Homo sapiens: one gene and its partners. The protein of the gene in region 4 interacts with the protein of the main gene of each other region in a pairwise test. Each region holds a gene or a part of one and is shown on either strand. Other genes may lie near its edges.

Region 1 (3,263 bases), on a different chromosome or scaffold from region 4:
GGAAGTAAGAACAGGCACGGCACGCTCTGCTGAAAGTAGACTGCGGCCAGGCTTTTGAAGGCCTTGAAGGATGTGTTAGGGATTTGGAAGCCACTGGAAAGATGAGCAGGGGTGGAGAGTGATTTAGGAATGTTGTTGTCATGCTGCCCAAAGCAAAGTAGATGAAGATTCGAGGTAGAAGCACACTTCTGCACAGGTGGCCCTAAGATGGTGATGGTGGAGTGGAAGGAGCAGATGAGCCAAGAGGACAGGAAATGAGGTCGGTGTAAAGGGCAGGGACAGGCCAGGGGTGCACAGGGATGAGTCTGGATTTGGCTGCCTTGAGGGCTGTCTACAGTAAGCATACTTAAGCGGATGTGCTAGAACTAATGTCATTATTTATTTGCCACAACCTAAAGAGACAGGCAAGTATTAGTCGCCCGTCACAGAGAAGGTCCAGGGTGTCCAGGGCCCACTGTGGAAAGCTCTGCCTGGCTTGCCCCTGCTCCGCCGGCCGTTACCCGCTACCCACTCATACTGTCGTCCAAAAACTGGGCAGTGAAAAGTCACAGGTCAGATACAAATTGGACAGATTTGGTGTGAACATTTACAAGCTCATCCCGTACGCTATGTTTCAGTGGTCACCTAAATATTCTCATTTCAGGACTTTTTAAAACACATTTTCCCAAATCTAACTTGGGACAAAATCTAACTTGGGACATTTAAATAGGTTATCAATAATTATCTGTTTATGGCCTCTTTCGGCACACAAATAAGCATCTCCCTGTACAAAATTCTAGTGTATGCTGAGCTGATTGATTGCCTTCTGCATACACCTTTTCTACAACTTCTCAAACGTGTGTGACATGCTGGTAAGATGGCAGGAAAAGGAGTGACTGAATAATACAATATAGCTGAGATGTGTTTCAAGAAAACCTCTGGGCCAGGGTAGGGGTTTGTGAGCGGGAGCCAAGGACTTGCCCCATGTTTCTAATCAAGGTGAGACCACTGACACATGTGGTCAGCAAATATGTTCTATACACACATCCGCACACTGTCATCTAACCCATCCGTTCTCCCATCCACAGCATCTCCAGGACAAAGCCATCGCAACTAGGGAGGGGTTGACACCTGCTCTCCTAACATGTTTTCTTTCTGTTTCAGGCTTGAAAAACCCTTGCCCAGTTTTGATCCCTTCAAGACTTTGTCACAGCCTCTATCACACATCTGTTTTTCTCGAAGAAAAAAATATAATTAATAAAAATGTTTTACTCTTTTACACTGTATAATTGTAAGAAATAGCGTATTATTTGTGAATGCATGGTCTGAAATTTCTGTACAGTTTGGAGATATTTTCAAACGAAACGTAAGAGAAGTCAACAATAAAACCAAGAAAAGTGAGTATTTTTATACCAAACATTTTAAGTATGCTGGGATGGACGATCTTACACTGGTTTGGATCACAGTTTTTGTTCTTGACTTTTGAATGCTTGTAATTAAAAATATCTATTTTTTTCCTCTGAAGTAAGTTGCATGTTTGAGGCATGTTTCCAAATATTATCAAAATATCCTGAATTGTATTGTGAATATATAGAAATCTGTGCCTGGCCGGAGTCCAGGGTAAATTAGTAGCATGGTGTTAGATGTTAGAAACAGAACTGTTATTTGCAGTGTTAGGTCTAGGATCCCAGTTCTAGTAGGACAGCCCTGCAAGACAATCAACCAGAAGCCTCCAGGAGCTTCTACCTATGGCTTATTCACAACTGGGCAAGAAAACATCATTGGTAAGAACTGCTGAGTGTGCCCTTAGAAAGCCCTAGTAGCTCCAGCTGTGACTATATCAACTGTGTGCCAAGTGTGACTTTGTACAGTTTTATGTTTCCACTCTCCTGTATGTGTAGCCACTCGATGCCTAACCTACCTTCCACAAGCCAGCCCCGCATCCCTGCTCCCGCAGTGTAAGTGCAGAGCCTGCCTCACTGGTAAGGGAAAACCTTGGCTTGGGAGGCCAGCCCTGGCCCTTGAAGGGGTTGGCTGTGCCCAGCCCACCTGGCTGCAGTGGGCAGCTCATGTCTGTATCTCCAAAGTGATGTTTGTTTGCAAAACACCGGCTGAACTGAGCTGGTGTTGCCAACTCTTGGCAGCACTGGGCCAAACCGACCACATACCATGAGCTCCCAAATGGCGTGTGCTCACTGTGAGACGTCCTGCCACACCCCACAGGAGACGGAGGCAGTGGGCATTTGGAACCAATTCTATTCAGACTTCGTCAAAGCCAAAGTCAGTCTGGTGTTGTCAGTTGACACATCTCCAGAGTTCATGACAGCTCAACCTCTCCCCTTGTACAGAAGCCATTTTTGTAAAACCACACTGACCTAAATTCAGCTGCCAAACACAGTCTTTCCTATTGATCCGCTCGGCTTATGTTGAAAATTTCAATGTCATGATTACCTGGTTGGTTTGGGTTTTTGTTTTGTTATTTTCCATTAGAAATATAAAGATGTCAAGAAGCTTTTAAAGGTCAACACAAAAAACCAAGGCCAGGAGTGAGGGGCTCTTTCTTACCGTAAATAAGGGGAAAAGGCAGTTAGCTCAAGGACTTGTGACGGATCCACTTTGGTGTTCAAGGACCTGCTTATGCCCTCAGTGCCAATCGGCTCTTGGTGAGATGACTGTACTCCTAAGGAAAATAGCCACTTCTGCAGTCTATTATGCTTTTATAACTGTTTAAAGGTACTTTTCTATTGTCATTTTTAAAAAATAAAGTGCTTATTCCAGCTGTCACACCATTGCTTGACAAATTCTTTTTTAGCAAGACCAACTACATGTATCCCACACTGCAGACAAGACGCCAGCAGATTTCATTCCCATTGTCAGGCTTCGGCAGAGCTAAGCAAGCATTGGCCATTGAGCTTAGGCACAAAGAGATTAAAGGAGGAAGCAGATACCGGGGAAAGCCAGAGAGTAAGTCTGCAAACGCACAACCACAGTGGCTGGTGACCCACAATGACACCAGAGGCAGAGGGACCTCAAGGGAGGCCCCTCATCTACCTCAGCCTACAAAGCTTGACTCAGGATTATCTGAATTATATTAAAATGTCACTTGGGTTTTCTGCTGACTTAAATATATCTTACGCCAGGCATGGTGGCTCACACCTGTAATCCCAACACTGGGAAACTGAGGCAGGAGGCTTGCTTGATCCCAGGAGTTTGAGACCAGCCTGGACAACACAGCAAGACCCTCAATTTTAACATTAGCCAGGAGTACTAGCACCTGTGGTCCT
Region 2 (5,573 bases), on a different chromosome or scaffold from region 4:
CACATCTTTCCACTTTCTTCCCTCCTCAGCTGTCATTAAGGCTCTGCCTTAGTGTCCAAGGACAAGGTGCTAGTGGGCAGCCTGTGTCACCTGCACTCACTGCTCCCCAACCTCCCAAGCCAGGATAGGGGGTGAGAAAGCCAAGGTCTGGAGCTTGGGATTGGTGGGCACTTTCTCACATGCTGTCCCTTATGAGTCGCCCAAGCCTCCAGGGACACAGACTCTCAGACAGGGCCCTGAAGGGGTCAATGCATCCATTCCTCAACCCCAAGCAGCATTCTGTGCAAGGAAACGGATGAAAGGCTTTTCTAGTCCCTGAAATCCTGAGAGATCATTTCACGTTGGGGTCCACTAAGACCTCAGACATTCTACTGGATTTGTCCTTCCTCCATCACCTTTTCTCCCCAAGAGAGCTCTATGAGGGGGAGGAGAATAGCCAGCAAATGGTGGGGGGGGGGGGGTCAAACAAGTTCCTGTACTCTTTATCCAGCACATTCACATTATTTTTAAACAAAAAAATTTTTTTTAATTTTTTCTTTGGGTTTGTACAAGAAATTTACAGTGTGAAAAATATACAAGTGAAAACGAGGCCATAAACCTGGGTGAAGGGAGAGGCTGCTTGGTCACAAACACAAATAAACAAGACATTTCTGAGTTCTTCCTTTGGTCTGACTTCAGCCCCCTCACTCCAGGAGAGAGGCTGCAGAGCTCAAACCTGGGAACCGAGCCCAGGCCCGGCCCTGTCCCCCAATGTGGGCAGGCACATCCGGAGCAGCTGGTGCCATCTGGCTTTCTCTGGCTTTGGGGTCGGGGGGAATGTGAAGAGGAGGGAGCCCCTTCTTCTTCCCTGCTCCCCTGGCTGGAGTGGGCTGGAAGCGCCTGTGAACAGGGTTGGCAGTGGCACTGGCAGCGGTGGGGAATGAAGTGGGTAGTAACAAGAGCCTCTGGGTAACAGTGAACACGGGGACCTTTGAGCGGTCTGATCTTGCTCCTCCAAGTCATAGGGCCACCCTGAGTTCTTGGCAGAAGCCCAGAGGCCTGGATCCTAGGAGACAAGTGGCTTTGGGGCCCTCAGCCTTTGGGGCCATCCGTGGACCCTGGGGCCTAAGTGGATCTGCAGCTGCTGCCCCTCTGGCAGAGCTCCCTACAGAGCTGGTTGCTGAGGGCCCTAGATCTCAGTAGCAGTGATCTCCTCCAGGCAGATGCAGGGGGCCTGCTCGGCCAGGCCCAGGTCAGCGAGCTCCCGGGCCTCCAGCTCCAGGCTGAGCTGCTGCAGCTCCTGCTCTAGCTGCCGGTTGCGCCGGTACATCTGGATGTAGTTGTGCTGCAGCTGCTTCTGGTAGCGGATCACCTGCTCCTTCTCTGCCTGCCAGGCCAGCCGCTCCCCCTCAAAGCTGTCCCGCTGCTCCTCACCCCGCCGCCGCTCCCGCTGCAGCTCCACCCGCAATCGCTCCACCTGGGCCCGCAAGCTGCCCCCAACCCCGGCTGCTGCCCGCTGCACTTTGGCCTCATCACTCTCTGCCAGGAGGAATGGGTCAGCGGTGGCAGGTGGCACAGGGGGCTCCCGGAGTCCGGCCGCCTCAGCATCCAACTGCCCAGCTTTCTCCCGCAGCTGCTCAGCTTCCTGGCGGTGTCGCTGCAGCTCCTGGGAACAGGCTTCCAGCTCCAGCTCCCGAGCTCGGGCGGCCTCCTGTAGACCCCGCGCACGGCCCTCACTGACCCGCAGCGTAGCACGGGCCTCCCGCAGCGCCACCCGCAGAGCCACCAGCTCGCTGCCCTTCTGCACCAGCTCTGCCTGAGACTCTTTCAGCTGCTGCTTCAGCAGGGAGATCTCGCCTGATTTCTGGCACACCTGGGGGTGGGAGGAAGTGGGGAAGGATGGTGAGACAGGTTCTCCTGGGGGGACAGGCCCTGCACATCATGCTGGGCATTTGGGAGAGAAGAGTCCATCTTTATCCCCATTTTACAGATGGAGACACTAAAGCAAGTCTAGTGACATGTCCAAGGTCATACAGTTAAGATGGGGCTTAAGTGGAAAGCAGACCTAGAACTTTTTGCTTCAAAGCTGGTGTCTTCAAAGCATCACAAGACACTGCAAGTACCACCAAGCCCTGGGGACTGGGGACTGGGGACTGGGTCCTGGCAAGTGCTGCAGGAGTGGGGACAATGGAGGGCAGTGCCCAGGTGCCTGCTGGAGAGGTACTACAGTGACCTAGTTAAGAGCTCAGATATTGGAGCCAGACTGCCTGGGTTCAGATTTGGGGCTTCAGCCTTTATGGGCCTCAGTTTACTCATCTCTAAAATGGGGAGACTAATGGTAGCCCCCTCAGTGTTGTTATAAGGATGAAATGATCTGTTCCATGTAACATGCTTAGAATAGTGCCTCCACACCACAAGCACCACATTCTTACTACTGGCTGGAAGCGTGGCTACGTGCCACTAGACAAGGCCAACAAGGAGACCCCCCTCCCAGAAAGGGACAGAGGGGAACCTCATCTCACGGAGGTGAGAAAGGGGAGGACCTCTGGGGGTGGCAGGCTGAGGGAGGGTGGGGCTGGGCCCCTTTTTCCAGGGTTTCTCCCTGTGTGACCCTGCTCCCTGCCCCTCCTGGTCTGGCCCACCTCCCACTTGGTCTCCTCAAGCCTCGGCCCGAGCTCCCGCTGCTCCCGCTCCAAGGTGGCGCAGCGCCGCTCCAGCTGTTCGCGCTCCTGCAGCAGCTGTGCGAAGTCGTCCTGCAATTGCCGCTTCTCCTGCTGCAGCTGGAACACCTGCAGCTGCAGCAGCTGTTGGGCCCGCTGTGCCCGCTGTGCCTGGGCCGCACAGTCCTCTCGCAGGGCCTCACGCTCTCGCTGCCAGTGCCGCTGCCGCTCCTCGTATGCCTGCAGGCGAGAAGAGAGACCTGGCTCCTGGGCAGTTTTCCCAACTCCCCACTCAGTGTCTGCTCTGGCAGCCCACTTCCGAGGGCTCAGGAAGGGTGGATTCCATTAAACAACAATAGTAATTGCAACAACAATACTAACTGCTTTTATGATGATCATAGAAACAAACACAAGAGCAAGCAGACCGGGCTCGGTGGCTCACGCGAGGTGGGTGGATCACTTAAGCTCCGGAGTTCGAGACCAGCCTAGGCAACACAGCAAAACCCTGCCTCTCCAAAGACCAAAAATTAGCTTGGTGTGGTGGCATGCGCCTGTAGTCTCAGCTACTTGGGAGGCTGGGGTGAGAGGACTGCTTGAGCCCAGGGGGTTGAGGCTACAGGGAGCTGAAATCACGCCACTGCTCTCTAGCCTGGGTGACAGAATGAGACCTTGTCTCAAAAAATAAAAAAAGCAAGCACTTGGCCGGGTGCAGTGGCTCACGCCTGTAATCCCAGCACTTTGGGAGGCCGAGGCAGGTGAATCACTTGAGGCCAGGGGTTCGCGACCAGCTTGGCCAACATGGTGGAAACCCTGTCTCTACTAAAAATAAAAAATAATAAAAAATTTTAAAAAAGGCAAGCATTTATATAGCACTTCCTAGGTACCAGGCATTAGTCTAATCACTTTACACCTTTTGCCTTATTTAATCCTCATAATAATCCTACGAAGCTAGAAATATCCCTATATAGATGAAGAAATAAAGGCTGAGTAAAGTTAAGCAACTTGCTCAAGCCCAAAAACTAGTATTTGGCAGTGGGAGGTTTGAATCCATGCACTCTGACTCCTTTCCACCCCACAAGTTTTGTTTTTTGTTTTGAGATAGAGTCTTGCTCTGTCGCCCAGGCTGGAGTGCAATGGTGGAATGTCAGTCCATTGTAACCTCCTCCTCCTGGGCTCCAGTGATCCGCCCACCTCAGCCTCCCAAGTAGCTGGGACTACAGGTACATGCCACCACACTTAGCTAATTTATTTTTAGTAGAAATGGGGTTTCCCCATGTTACCCAGGTTGGTCTCAAACTCCCGAGCTCAAGCAATCCGCCCACCTCGGCCTCCCAAAGTGCTGGGATTACAGATGTGAGCCACCACACCTGGCTACTCCACACATTAAACCAGACAACTGGTGGGGAGGGCAGGGGGGTCACAACTACAACTACCCAACCCCCGTTCCCTGCCAAAATGGAAATGCCGCTTGCATCCCAGGGCCTTGGGATGTCCTGCCATGCCCCTTCCCCATCATTGCCTCTGACCACACCTGGCACATGGTAGCCTCATTCTCGTCCAGACTGTCCCGCAGCTGCTGAAGCTCTGCCTCCCGGTCTCGGAGCTTTCCTTCCAGGACACAGTGCAGCAGGGCCTCATCCGAAGGAGGTGGAGGCGGGGGTGGTGGTGAGCGCTCCCCACAGGAGCTGCTGTCAGGGGAGGCCCGAGTACCACTGCCCAAAAGCCCCCCAGCCACACGGCCCCCTAGGGAGCCTGTGCTCTTGCTGGAGGAGGACCGGCCACTGTCTGAGTGGGAGGGCCCAGTAGGGACCCCTCGGGCTGGCCCAGGCAGTGCCCCTCGCCCAGAGCCATGGGAAGGCAGGTGCCCGCCTGGGGAGCTGGTGGTTGGCTCGGCACCTCCGGTGCTGTAGGTGGGCAGGCTGGACAGTGAGTTTCGGCCAGAGTCGGATAGCGTCCCTGATGGGCAGCCACTGGCCCAGCCACTAAATGCCAGGGGTTTGTCAGCAGCTGAAGAGGAGGAGGAAGAGGAGGAGGAGGAGGCAGGGCCCCCAAACAGCTGCGTCAGGCTGCCCTGGCTCCCAGACAGCCCGGTGGCCCGAGGACCCATGAAGCTAGGCAGGGACGGAGCCCCTCGAGGTTTGGGCAGCACTGGCTTGAAGGCTGTTGGGCGGATCAGGATCTTCTCCATGTTCTGAAATGAGGTGCCATGTGACACTGGAGATGAGCTGCCCAATCTTGCAGAGCCCTTATGACACTCCCTGCCCTCCCGTCTTGGGTCCCCAGTGCCCATATATTCATAACAATTGCGGCCACTGGTGGAGGTGGCCACCAGTGTCAGCTTTGTGTCAAGCAATTTGAAAAGTTTATCTCCATTATCTAAATATGATCACTATCCCCATATTACAGATGAGGAAATGGAGGCTCAGCAAGGTTAAAGGCCTTGCCCAAAGTCAAACGTATAACTGGTGCAGAATAACCAGAACGTAAGCAACTAGCACTTACTGCGTACATGCTACGTGCTAGGCACTATGCTATACATTATTTGACCTTCATGTCAGTTCTAGAAACTGAGGCTCAGGTTAAGTGACTTCCCTGAGGTCACACATCCAGAATGAGAGAGAGCTGGGATTAGGACCCAGGTCTGGTGAATCTGGAGCCCACACTCTTTCCTCTATATAAGCTTCTAAATTCCAGTTTCCCAAGCGAGGACTCCCGTTCTACCCAGGCCCACAAGGAAGAGCCGGTCCTCACCTTCTCCAGCTTTCCAGAGACAGGGATGAGCTTTGGTGGTGGGCCGCGGAGGTGGGCATTGTGTGCCCGCTGCTCTCGGGCATCCTCAACATCACTGCTTGGGCTGGGGGGTGACTCTGTCCGGAAGTCCTCATTGATGTAGGTGAAGCTGGTGACAGGGACAGCCTTCCTAGGGGGCACAGC
Region 3 (5,146 bases), on a different chromosome or scaffold from region 4:
CTCTCTTCTTAGGCCTTAAAGGGGTCCCCGTGTCTCTCCAGTCTAGAGCCTAAGTTCAAACGAGGCGTATAGGCGAGGACAGCAGGAAGGCTCCAAGTCAAACAAACGGATGGTACGAATTTCGCCTGGTCTAGCCCTGCCCCAACGGTGTGGGTGTGGGTTGGGTGCTGCAGCCCCCGAGCAAGGGGCTGTCACAGCCACAACCAGAGGAGCTATGGAGCTGCTACGGAGGAGGGATTCCAGAGTCAGCTTGGGCTTGTCCCAAGGGAGCCCTTGGGACAGTGTCTGGGGCTGCGCGGCCTGGTTCTCATCCCTTGCAGCATCTGCTATTTTAGCCAGGGGCCACCTTCCTCCAATGGCCTGGGAGTAGCTAGAGGTTAGAGGTTACACCCACCAGAAGGGATGTAAGCCCAGGAAGTAGTCAGAAAGGAAAGGTCATTCTAGAGATGGGGCCACCTGAAAAACCTTCAGGAGGAAGGAGAAAGGAAATGGGATAAGTGTCATGTCATACTAAATATTTATTTTCTGCAGACTGACTTCGGAGTAATTCTTGAGCCAGGAGGGGAGAGGTTAGTGTTCAAATTGCTGAGATCTTAGGTCAAAAAGCTACAGAAAAGAAATCACTTTGAAAAACACAATGACTCAGAGGCAGTCACCCCTTGCCAGCAATTCCAAGAGCTGAGGAGGCTTCATGCCTCAGGACATGGTGACTAGTTGAGTGAACCAGAGATTGAGGCAGTGGTTTTTACAGGGGAAGAAACAAGCCTTGGGTGTATGGGAGCAGGAAAGGAGGGTGACAGACTGGAGAAATGATAAAGGCCATTTTGGAAGCCCACAGGGAAGTGGTCTTGGGAAACCTGAAGACACTGGGATATTCAGAAGGCCAAGGGGATCCAGCTTATCCTGTTGGGCAAGGTGCTGGGAGTGAAGGCAGGTAAGCCATGTCAAGGGCCTGGGAAGCAAGGGGAAAACTGGAAGGGGTACCCCAGGTGAAGAAGGGTATGGAATGGGGTGCAGAAGTCCATGGAGATGACCGGCAGATCTCAGGGCGGTTTCTGGCACATCAGAAGTTGGGCTTATGCTTCTTGAGCTCCACCATAAGGTGGTGAATGTTGATGAGCTCAGCCCGGGCAGGGAGGGCTCGGAGCTGCGGCTGGGACAGCACCCGGTGGAAGCGATGATAGAGCTGGATCAGCTGGGTCAGCGCTCCCTGGTCAAAGAAAGTCATTGAGGGATCAAACCGTAAAATGGTGCTAATAGTGATGATTAAGAATCAGGTTAGGCGGCCAGGCGCAGTGGCTCACACTTGTAATCCCAGCACTGTGGGAGGCCATGGCGGGCAGATCACGAGGTCAGGAATTCGAGACCAGCCTGGCCAACACAGTGAAACCCCATCTCTACTACAAATACGAAAATTAGCTGGTTGTGGTGGCAGGCACCTGTAATCCCAGCTACTTGGGAGGCTGAGGCAGGAAAATCACTTGAACCTGGGAGGCAGAGGTTGCAGTGAGCCGAGACTGTGCCACTGCACTCCAGCCTGGACAACAGAGCTAGACTCTGTCTCAAAAAAAAAACAAAACAAACAAAAAAAAAAGAATCAGGTTAGGGCTCATACAGAACTTTGGGCACAGCTAGTAACTGAAGACCAAGGGTCACTTAGATGATGCTGAGCCCAGCAAAAAGATGGGGAAAATAATTAATGATGGGGGATCTGAGTGGGGCCTGGGACTTGCAGGTCACCTGAATGATACTGGTGCCATTTCTGAAGTTGGTGAAACTCCGCATTACATCCTGACTCAGAGATTCCACTGATGATTTCCAGGAACTACCAAAGCCACGGATCAGCTGAGTTACCCGGGCTAATAGCAGGAGGAAACAGTGTCAGAGAGGGATCTGGCTGATCTTCAACTCCACTAAGTTCTCCCCAAGGTATAGCCATCCTTATCATCAAACCCTCTTTTCTGGTATTCTCTCAATCCAGTCTTTCATACTCTATTCCCCCACCATGTAATCTGCATCCTTTCATTTTTCTTTTCCACTTCCCTTACCACTGATCCCATCATTACCATATTTTCCTCATACCTTCTTCCCCTCGAAGTCGCTCAGCCTGTCCACGCTCAATCAAAGCCTCAGCCTCCTTCACAAATGCCACTAAACCCCCAAAAGGGGGAGACAGCAACTCTTCAATGAATTCCTGGAAAGACACAAACACATATACACAGGTGTCCTGGTGTCAGCAGATTTGCCCAATTCTGGCATCATGACTAATGTAGATCCATCTGAATGGCATCTTTCAGCTGCTGCAAAAGTTAAGGAAAATCCTCTATGGAGAAAAATATCCTCAATCCTAATTTTGGCCCATACAGTTCCCCTGGTTAAGATCAAACAATGAACTCAAAGATCACTAGACACAAAAGAAGGGCAGCTACCAAGAGAGTCAGCAGACACAATAAGCAATAGCTGCTGACCTTAAGAACTATCCGATACGGATAGCAGTTGTACTGTGTGCAATGTCTAAAGTTAAGGATAGGCCGGGCACAGTGGCTCACGCCTGTAATCCCAGCACTTTGGGAGGCTGAGGTGGGCAGATCACCTGAGGTCAGGAGTTCAAGACCAGCCTGGCCAACATGATGAAACCCCATCTCTACTAAAAATACAAAAATTAGCTGGGCATGATGGTGGATGCCTATAATCCCAGCTACTCGGGAGACTGAGGCAAGAGAATCACTTGAACTTGGGAGGCGGAGGTTGCAGTGAGCAGAGATCATGCCACTGCACTCCAGCCTGGATGACAGAGCAAGACTCCGTCTCAAAAAAAAAAAAAAAAAAAAAGGATGTAAAAATGACCAATTAGTAAGAACTATGAGGAATGAACAGACTTGAAAAAAGGAAATTTTTTTAGATATGAAAAGCCAGTTTTAGAAAGTCAACAGATTAACAAGAATTATACAATGAATTAGAATTTATAACTGAAGAAAGGACTCAGAATGTAGCACAGACAGAAGATGGAAAATTTTGAGATAGTAGGAGATACAGAAATCTAATTAATGTATCTAGGCACTGAAATTGATGGCTACTAACATCACAAAGAGAGCCAAGAAGACATTATGTGCTTCCTGATGGAAATACATACCACTACCTCTCAAATATCCCTGTAGAAAAAAAAAAACTAATTTAAATCTGACCAAGCCTTTCCATCTAATTACACACTTATGAGAAATACACCAGACAGAGGAAGTTTGGCCACACCATGGAATGCAGTCAGCAAAATCTAAACTGTACATCATTCTAGATGACAAATGACTCAATAACTCAGTTTCTTCCAAAAATAAATTGCAGAGGAGATGGAAGGGAAATCTATAGACTAAAAAAAGACACATATATGGACTTTATATGGATCCTGATTTGAACCATAAAAATCATTTATGAAGGCCAGGCACAGTGGCTCATGCCTGTAATCCCAGCATTTTGGGAGGCTGAGGCGGGTAGATCACCTGAGGTCAGGAGTTTGAGACCAGCCTGGCCAACATGGTGAAATCCTGTCTCTACTAAAAATACAAAAATTAGCTGGGCGTGGTGGTGGGTGTCTATAATCCCAGCTACTCAGGAGACTGAGGCAGGAGAATTGCTTGAACCCGGGAGGCAGATGTTGGAGTGTGCCAAGATCGGGCCATTGCACTCCAGCCTGGAGGCAACAAGAGTGAAACTGTGTCTCAAAAAAAAAAAAAAAAAAATCACTTATGAAATAACTGGGAAAATCTGAATAGTTATTTTAGATAAGATAATTTTTTTAAGTGTGATAATGTATTGTAGTTTTTAAAACCATCTGTTACCAGGTGTGGTGGCACACACCTGTAGTCCCAGTTACTTAGGAGGCTGAGGTGGGAGGATCACTTGAGCCCAGGAGTTCGAGGCTGCAGGGAGTTATATCATGCTACTACACTCCAGCCTGGGCACTACAGCAAGGCCCTATCTCAAAAATAATTTTCTTAATAAAAATAACATTCTGATACAGATGAAGTGATAATATTCATCTGTATATGTATAAGATTTAATTCAAAGTAACTGGGGGACACAGAAGGAGGATAAGCAATAGGTGTTGGTATAGATGAAACAAAACTGTCCGTGAACTGCTATACACCGAATATCACTGATGATGCCTGGGGGTTCACTATGCTTTTCTAATAGCATAGTGAAATTTCCCATAATAAAATGTTAATTTTTGTTTAATGTAAAAGGGAGATTCAAACAAAAAAACTCATAAAAGCAAACAACCCAGACAGAAAGATCTGGTAAGAAGAAAGTGAAATTATTATTCCATTTAAAAATAAATTATTAATACTAAAATTAGCCAGGTGTGGTGGTGCATGCCTGTAACCCCAGCTACTCAGGGAGACTGAAGCAGAAGAATCACTTGAACCGGGAGGCAGAGGTTGTAGTGAGCCAAGATCATGTCACTGCACTCCAGCCTGGGCGACAGAGCAGCAACTTGTCTCAGTAAATAAATAAATAAATAAATAAATAAAAATTGTATCTTTTCTATTCTTCCCTCAAAATATTCACTTATATCCACTGAGGGTGTCAAATAACTAATATGCTGCAAGGAAGGATCTTTCTATAATCAAGGCATCTTTGTGATGTGATTTTGGACAGAGATTAAATAACCAAATTCAACCTATTACAGTTGCCTAAATGCAGTCTCACACACACATATACAAACAATAATGTAGCAGTGTACGGTGGGGCACAGGGAGTAGACTTGCCAAAGAAAAGTTGAACTAACAGTGATGACCCCTGCTAGGCAGGAGCCATAAATTATATAATGTGTTGTAAGCATGATATATACACCTGATTTTGAAGACTTCATCTTAGAATAAATTTTAAGTATATCTTTTTTTTCTTTTTTTTTTTCGGAAACAGGGTCTTGCTCCATCACCCACGCTGGAGTGCAGTGGCACAATCACAGCTCACTACAACCTCAACTTTCCTGGCTCAGTGATTATCCCACCTCAGCCTCCTGAGTAGCTGGGACTAACAGGCATGTGCCAACATGTCCCACTCATTTTTTTTTTATTTTTTGTAGAGATGGGGTTTCACCATGTTGTCCAGGCTGGTCTCAAACTCCTGGGCTCAAGCGATCCTCCCT
Region 4 (7,047 bases):
TCTTCCATCTTTTGCTTTCATGTAGTGTGGCTCTTCCCTTCCTCAGAGTGATCCCTTCTGTTTTTTTTTTTTCTTTTTTAGACAGAGTCTCTCGCTCTGTTGCTCAGGCTTGAGTGCAGTGGCGTGATCTCGGCTCACTGCAGCCTCCGCCTCCTGGGTTCAAGTGATTCTTGTGCCTCAGCCTCCCGGGTAGCCAGGACGACAGGTGTGTGCCACCACACCCGACTAATTTTTGTATTTTTACTAGAGACAGGGTTTTGCCATGTTGGCCAGGCTAGTCTTGAACTCCTGATCTCAAGTGATCCACCCGCCTCAGACTCCTAAAGTTCTGGGATTACAGGCATGAGTCACCACACCTGGCCAGAGTGATCTCTAAACCTCCTATACTTGGATAAAAATAAAAGGAATAGCATTCTTTTTTTTTTTTTTTCTTTTTTTGAGATGGAGTTTTGCTCTTGTTGCCCAGGCTGGAGTGCAATGGCATGATCTTGTCTCACCACAACCTCCGCCTCCCAGGTTCAAGCGATTCTCCTGCCTCAGCCTCCTGAGTAGCTGGGATTACAGGCATGTGCCACCGCGCCCAGCTAATTTTGTATTTTTAGTAGAGACAGGGTTTCTCCATGTTGGTCAGGCTGGTCTCGAATTCCCGACCTCAGGTGATCTGCCCGCCTCACCCTCCCAAAGTACTGGGATTATAGGCGTGAGCTACTGGGCCCTGGCGACATTCTTTTTCATACATTTACTGGCATTGGAAGAAAAGAATGCAGCAGTCCGTATAGGCTTTTCATCATTCCTCAGGTGCTGCTTGTTCCTAGCTTCCATCTGAAGATTTGTCATTATTTTAATAAAATGTTTTGGCCAGGTGTGATGGCTCACACCTATAATTCCAGCACTTCAGGAGGCCAAGGTGGGAGGATCACTTGAGGCCAGGAGTTTGAGACCAGCCTGGGCAAGATGGCAAGACCCCATCTCTACAAAAACAACAACAACAACAAAAAATTAGCCGGACGTGACAGTGCGTGTCTGTAGTCCCCGCTACTCAGGAAGCTAAGGTGGGAGGGTCACTTGAACCCAGGAGTTTGAGGCTGCAGTGAGCTACAATTGCATCACTGCACTCCAGCCTGGACAACAGATTGAGACCCCCATCTCAAAAAAAACAAAACAAATGAACTTTTGTGTTAGAATGGGGAGAGGGGACGGGCAATGGGGAGGAAAAAGTGTAGTGCTGTGATAATTGTATAGTGGGTTGAAAGTATATTATGAAGGGTATTTTACTTAGAGAAGGAGTAAAAATGTTTAAGTCATAGTAAAAGGACACTCTTAGATTAAAAAGAAAACACGGAGGAGGAGGTAAGGGGGTCAGCAGATAAGAGAGTAAAAATTCTTTGGTGAAAGCAGGTGGAGAATATCCTCAGCAATACTCCCAGCACCTTAAAGTGAATTGGTTTTCTCTCTCAATCTCTCTCGGTGTACTCCTCTATTTGGTATTGTATTTCAATTTGCTTGCACAATAAGACTTGGTTGTTTAGCTCATCTTCTGACTTCCATGAAACAAAATGTTATTGTATTCCCATTTGTAGCGTGAATCTCTCTCAAAAAGACCACTGATCTTAGAAACCTCTGTATTCATGTTAGTAAATGTCACATTTTAGAGGAGAGGAGACTCCTGACCTGAAAATCTAAGCTTGAATCTATAACGTCCTTTAAATATTAGGCCTAAATAAGGTAACATAAGTTTTCAAACCTGATCGACAATCATATTGTCTGGGAAGCTTTTTAAAAATACACATTTCCCAAGTTCCATCTAAATTTCACTATTGATTCTCCTGGAGTCCTTTGTTTTTGTTTTGTTGGGTTTTTTTTGTTTGTTTGTTTGTTTGTTTTGAAGTCCTCTAGATAGTTGATTTTGATAATCAGCCAGATTTGGGAATCCCTGATAGGGAGAATGGTGTGTGCCAAAGTTACATTGTATTGATCAAGTAAGGGCTGCTTGACTCAAGGGTCCCCCTGCGGTGATAAGACCTTTGTGGATCATATACAGATCTCTATCTTTAGTTCAAGTATATTTCTCCATTTTGATAGCCAAGTCACAGCTAGCCTACCCATCATTTTACTGCTGTTTTCTGGTGCTGAATTTTGTTGAGGGGTGGGTTGGGGATGTCACCTTGAGGGGAAGTATTTTTTAAGAAGTGTCTAGACCTGGCTCACACCTTAATCCCAGCACTTTGGGAGGCTGAGGTGGACGGATCGCTTGAGCCTAGGAGGAGACCAGCCTGGGCAACGTGGCGAAACCCAGTCTCTACAAAAAACACAAAAATTAGCTGGGCGTGATGGCATGCACCTGTAGTCCCAGCTACTTGGTAGACTAAAGTGGGAGGATTGCTTGAGCCTTGAGGGTTTGAGGCTGCAGTAAGCTTTGATCATGCTACTGCACTCCAGCCTGAGCAACAGAAGGAGACCCTGTCTCAGAAAAAAAAGTGTCCAGGTTTTGTTGGATAAGAAGGACCAGGGTCCTCTAACTCACTGCAGGGTCTCCTTGCCTAGCTAGTTCTCTTTGGTATGCTTGGTGGTATGTGTAATATGTAGAGTTAAAGATACTAGGCATAAAATAGGTGATTGTGTCAACATCAGAAACAAGAAGAAATGGGAGTGAGGAGAACATGAACTTATTGAGGAGTATTTTTTTCTTTCCTAATGTAGTTAAGAAACATAACCAGAAAGAATAAGATTATTTAACTGAAACATATTTCTAAAACTGAAACAAACATGATACTAAAATAGCTTGTTTATCATTCCCCAATTATGCATTTTTAAAACCTTCACAGAATGTGGCTTCATGTCTCAGGCTTTAACATACTTATTGAGTATGCACACCTCTCTCTGCTAGTTACAGTGTGCCTTACGAGAAGATTTTTCTGATTATCTGTTATTGTGTAACCATTGGCCCAGCTCTGTGTAAACAAGCTCTTTAGCCTGGCCTGCTGGAGGTTGGCTCTTCCCAAGAAAGTTTTTAGAACTCAGAGGAACTGCATGAAGTAGTAGTGAGAACACTTAGCCCTGCATTGCAGAAGTTAACTGATCCTCTCAGCATCACTGTGAGGTAGGTAAGTAAATCTGAACTTGAAACCTAAAGTGCAAGGCTAAACAAGTTGCTTAAGTCCTTGCAGGAGGTATAGCATCAGAAGGTGATTCATACACTGGGATCCCTGGCCCCCAGGCTTGTGCTCAGAAAGATCCTCTGTTCTGTTGACCGCTTGATAGAAAACTGGAATTTGATTTATTAAATGTTTGACATTTTTAATGAAAAGAAATTGATTCAGAAACTTTGTGAATTTTGCTCACTGTTTTGAGAATCTAAAGACCCTTTTTCTTCTTATTTTAGAAGCTGCTAACCTGTGCCAAACCTCCACGGCTGCTACGACACCTGTGACTCTCACTACTCCATTCAGTATAACATCCTCTGTGTCGTCTGGGACTATGTCAAACCCAGTCACAGTGGCAGCTGCAATGAGCATGAGAAGTCCAGTAAATGTTTCAAGTGCAGTTAACATAACCAGCCCAATGAACATAGGGCATCCTGTAACTATAACCAGTCCATTATCCATGACCTCTCCTTTAACACTCACTACCCCAGTCAACCTCCCCACCCCCGTCACTGCCCCAGTGAATATAGCACACCCTGTCACCATCACATCTCCAATGAATCTACCCACACCTATGACATTAGCCGCCCCTCTCAATATAGCAATGAGACCTGTAGAGAGCATGCCTTTCTTGCCCCAAGCTTTGCCTACATCACCGCCTTGGTAAACAGTATTATAAAATCAAAATATGGGTAAAAGTAAATATTTACCAGCAACTTAACTTTTAGTTGATTAAAGCAAAAAGTAAACCATGAAATTGGGAGATTTTATTACATTAGTTAATAAGAGTGTGGTAGCATTTTTCTCCAATTTGGCTGGGATTATTCAAAGTAGGGTGTGTATGTAACTTATCACTGGACCACTTTAGTTTAATCAGAAATTCCTTTTAGCTGACAACATTGCTTAAACAGGATAGTAGTTGGCAAGATGAAATGCCAGAATTAAAACCAATCATAAGTAGAACCCACTTCAAAATAAAAAAACAGCATTACTATTTCTAATCCCAAGGAATCACTTTATTGTAAACACTAGCAGAACTCTTCTCCCTATACAAGGTGGATGGCTGATTTTAACCTGAAATTTTAAATCCACAGATTGAGAGCTAGTGTAGAATTGTCTGTGTTTATTGTTTTTATGAGTAAATACATGCATTGTCATAATAAAATGCATTTCAGAGAATATGCATTTTACCTTTGGGAATATGTTAATTTCAGGCAGCATTCCCTATGGGAAAGGTGATACCAGCTCTGATATGCAAAGCATATGATAATTTATCATTCTAACTTCAACGTATAATAGGGATTGTGACCTGATATTTGGAGATGTAAATATTGCTCAGCATATTAATCCCGATGGAATATAGCATTGTAGTTGACTTTTTAAAAAAAAAAAAAATTTAAAAAAAATCTACAAATTGTGTTTTGCTAAGAAAAGCCTCAACTGACAGAGGAGAAGTCAAGTGTGTGGACAGGCAAGCTCCTAATAAACAGAGTCCAGTGGGATTCCTATTTAGGAGCCAAGGAGTACTTTGGAACAGTACAAATATATTGCTTTAAATTGGAAGACGCTGGAGGCACTGGGATGTGATATGCCCCTCTCTCTCCCAATCAGAGCCTGTTGATATTACAACAGGGACAGATGTGTTAGTTGCTCACTAGAGTTTATGTCTTATATTAAATTGTATACAGTTTTTATTCTAACCACTAACTAGGTAGTGTATGCCCCTTCAGAACATGCAGAGTGTATCTTTTTTTAAATTTCTCCTTCCGTTTCTTAAGTATTGCGCAGATTTGTTCAACTTTGTAAATATGGACATCACTTTTTTTTTCTTTGAGAAAACACTTGTATCAGCTTTGTGGTGTTTTCAGGGAGACAGCTGTCTGCATTCCCTGTAGAAACCCAGCAATGATTATGCACGTTGAGACATGTGCTTTTTATTTCTTAGCAAGATATTTTATCTCTGTACATAAAGTAGAAACCAAAAGCTAGGGAAACAGATACTCTTTACACCATCATGCCACGCATTGTTTTTAAAGCATTGCGTTAAAAAAAAAATTAACTAAACCAAGATGCTGTGATTTTTTAAGTTGCAATATGTTTTTGGTTTTTTTCATTTTTTAATCATTGCAGTTAAGAGAAATGGAAATTAGTTGTGTTAATCTTGCAGAATGTTTGCAGGACTGACTATCAAACTGGATGATTTCCATTTATACCCTACTGTGTCAGTTCAAGCATCAAAATACCTTGCATCTGAGACAGACTTCCTACATCAGGGACAGGTATCTGTGTGTCATTATACAAAACAGTTCTAGGGGGTTGAACTACATAGTAAAAAAATAAAATAAATAGTACTTAGTGTAAAATAATTTTATAAATGATCTTTTGTACTTTAGGACATTAAATTGTACAACTTTTGTATATATAAAAGCTTAGGAACTTTCTGTTTAGCAGGAAGGCAACACATTCCTACACTTTTAATGTATATGTTTGTTATAATGTCCATGTAAACATGCCCTATGTTTGTGCCTTTTAATTAGTTTGTCTCAATAAACAAAATGTAGAGAAAAATATGTAGCTATGACTTTGTTACAACTGTTCTTATCCACAGTACAAAAATGGTTTGTTTTTAATATGTAGAGCATTATGTGTGGACTACTGGAAGGACTCGTGTAGGGAAAGCCCAAGAATGACCTTGCTGAGGCCTGGATTGGGAGGCACAGTGGCCACATTTGGAGGAAGTTCACATTTCCTGGCATGCAGACCCAAAACTGGGTTCTGGCTCTGCCTGCTGGGATCTGTTATCTCTGGTGGGCTGGCAGTCATAATTCACAATTCAGACAGCCCAGGCTTCCTCCACAGTGGTCCAAGGAGCAGTCCTCAGTGGGGGCAGGTGTGGGCCCTACCCCTAAGCTAGAATGTGGTTGTCAGAACCCTGAAAGTATTAGTTCTAAAAAAAAAAAGATATATACTAGAAGTAATTGTTTTATCAATTCATTGTATAATAAACAGGAGTGAGACTTCATTGTATGACTTCAGTTAAAATACTATTTTGTATGCATTCTTTATTCACTTAAGAAGCTTGTCTGCAATAATAAAGCCACGTCATGTCTTCTTTTGGGAGGGAGAGAGTCGATGGCAGGAGGGGGTTTTGGGTGGGCCACTGAAAAGGGGTACCGAATAGGTTGTGTGATGAAATTCTGTGTCTTGGAACTGGAATTGAGTTTCGATGTTGATGAACTGATTCAACCAGGTGTTGAAGGCACGACAGCCACTGCTCTACGAAAAGGCAGAGTACGTTTTTCCCTTCTGGTTGTAACCTGGTTGAGAGCTTCCCCTTTATCAGATTGGCAGCTAAACAGTTGTATTAGATAATCCTTAAATCTGACATCCAGCCTGTTACGCTCTAGGGCTCGCTGCTTGGCCTGCGTTTGCTTTTTATTGTGTATCCGTTCCCCTCCTACGGTGTGCTCCTGAATGAAGGTTTCTATGTAAGCAGATGATGATTTTACCTGTCAATACCAGCACTGTATTACTAACATGCAAAATACTGCAGATTTATTTTGAAAATTAAAGTTAACTGGTCACAAATGTTATGATGGATTGTTTAATACCTCAGAAGCTTCATCAGTTTGCTCTGATAATAGAGGAATTTTTCAAGTACTTTCTTTTCAGGTGCGCACATCTCAGTATTGGGTTGGAGAGAGAGGGAGGGACCAGTATCAGGCTGGTTGGAGGGTGGAAGGGCACCAGACTGACTGCCCTTGGTAGGTGCACCCTCCCAAGCAGCTCAGGTAAGGCCCAGGAAGCTAGGATGGAGGCAGTGGCCACAGGTTTAGGTCCCTGTCCTACCCAAAAGAGAAGATGGGTTTAAAACATTTCTTCTCATGCTCTAGGACCCAATTTC

The links.
Region 1: the proteins of VEZF1 (region 4) and RBPMS interact in binary tests that used the Homo sapiens proteins (3 or more experiments, as listed by UniProt).
Region 2: the proteins of VEZF1 (region 4) and LZTS2 interact in binary tests that used the Homo sapiens proteins (3 or more experiments, as listed by UniProt).
Region 3: the proteins of VEZF1 (region 4) and VPS52 interact in binary tests that used the Homo sapiens proteins (3 or more experiments, as listed by UniProt).

The regions. Positions count from the first base shown.
Region 1 is NC_000008.11:30,569,494-30,572,756, forward strand, and holds the end of RBPMS (RNA-binding protein with multiple splicing), read left to right. Parts: intron 1-1,143; coding exon of another isoform or gene 1,144-1,237; 3' UTR 1,238-2,763; downstream 2,764-3,263.
Region 2 is NC_000010.11:101,002,764-101,008,336, reverse strand, and holds the end of LZTS2 (leucine zipper putative tumor suppressor 2), read right to left. Parts: coding exon 5,391-5,573; intron 4,831-5,390; coding exon 4,171-4,830; coding exon of another isoform or gene 4,069-4,170; exon of another isoform or gene 3,861-4,068; intron 2,880-3,860; coding exon 2,622-2,879; intron 1,853-2,621; coding exon 1,169-1,852; 3' UTR 504-1,168; downstream 1-503. UniProt on the Homo sapiens protein: Negative regulator of katanin-mediated microtubule severing and release from the centrosome. Required for central spindle formation and the completion of cytokinesis.
Region 3 is NC_000006.12:33,249,778-33,254,923, forward strand, and holds the end of VPS52 (vacuolar protein sorting-associated protein 52 homolog), read right to left. Parts: intron 5,114-5,146; exon of another isoform or gene 4,921-5,113; intron 2,195-4,920; coding exon 2,083-2,194; intron 1,930-2,082; exon of another isoform or gene 1,860-1,929; coding exon 1,741-1,859; exon of another isoform or gene 1,736-1,740; intron 1,211-1,735; coding exon 1,064-1,210; 3' UTR 501-1,063; downstream 1-500. UniProt on the Homo sapiens protein: Acts as a component of the GARP complex that is involved in retrograde transport from early and late endosomes to the trans-Golgi network (TGN).
Region 4 is NC_000017.11:57,971,236-57,978,282, reverse strand, and holds the end of VEZF1 (vascular endothelial zinc finger 1), read left to right. Parts: intron 1-3,382; coding exon 3,383-3,810; 3' UTR 3,811-6,731; downstream 6,732-7,047. UniProt on the Homo sapiens protein: Possible transcription factor. Specifically binds to the CT/GC-rich region of the interleukin-3 promoter and mediates tax transactivation of IL-3.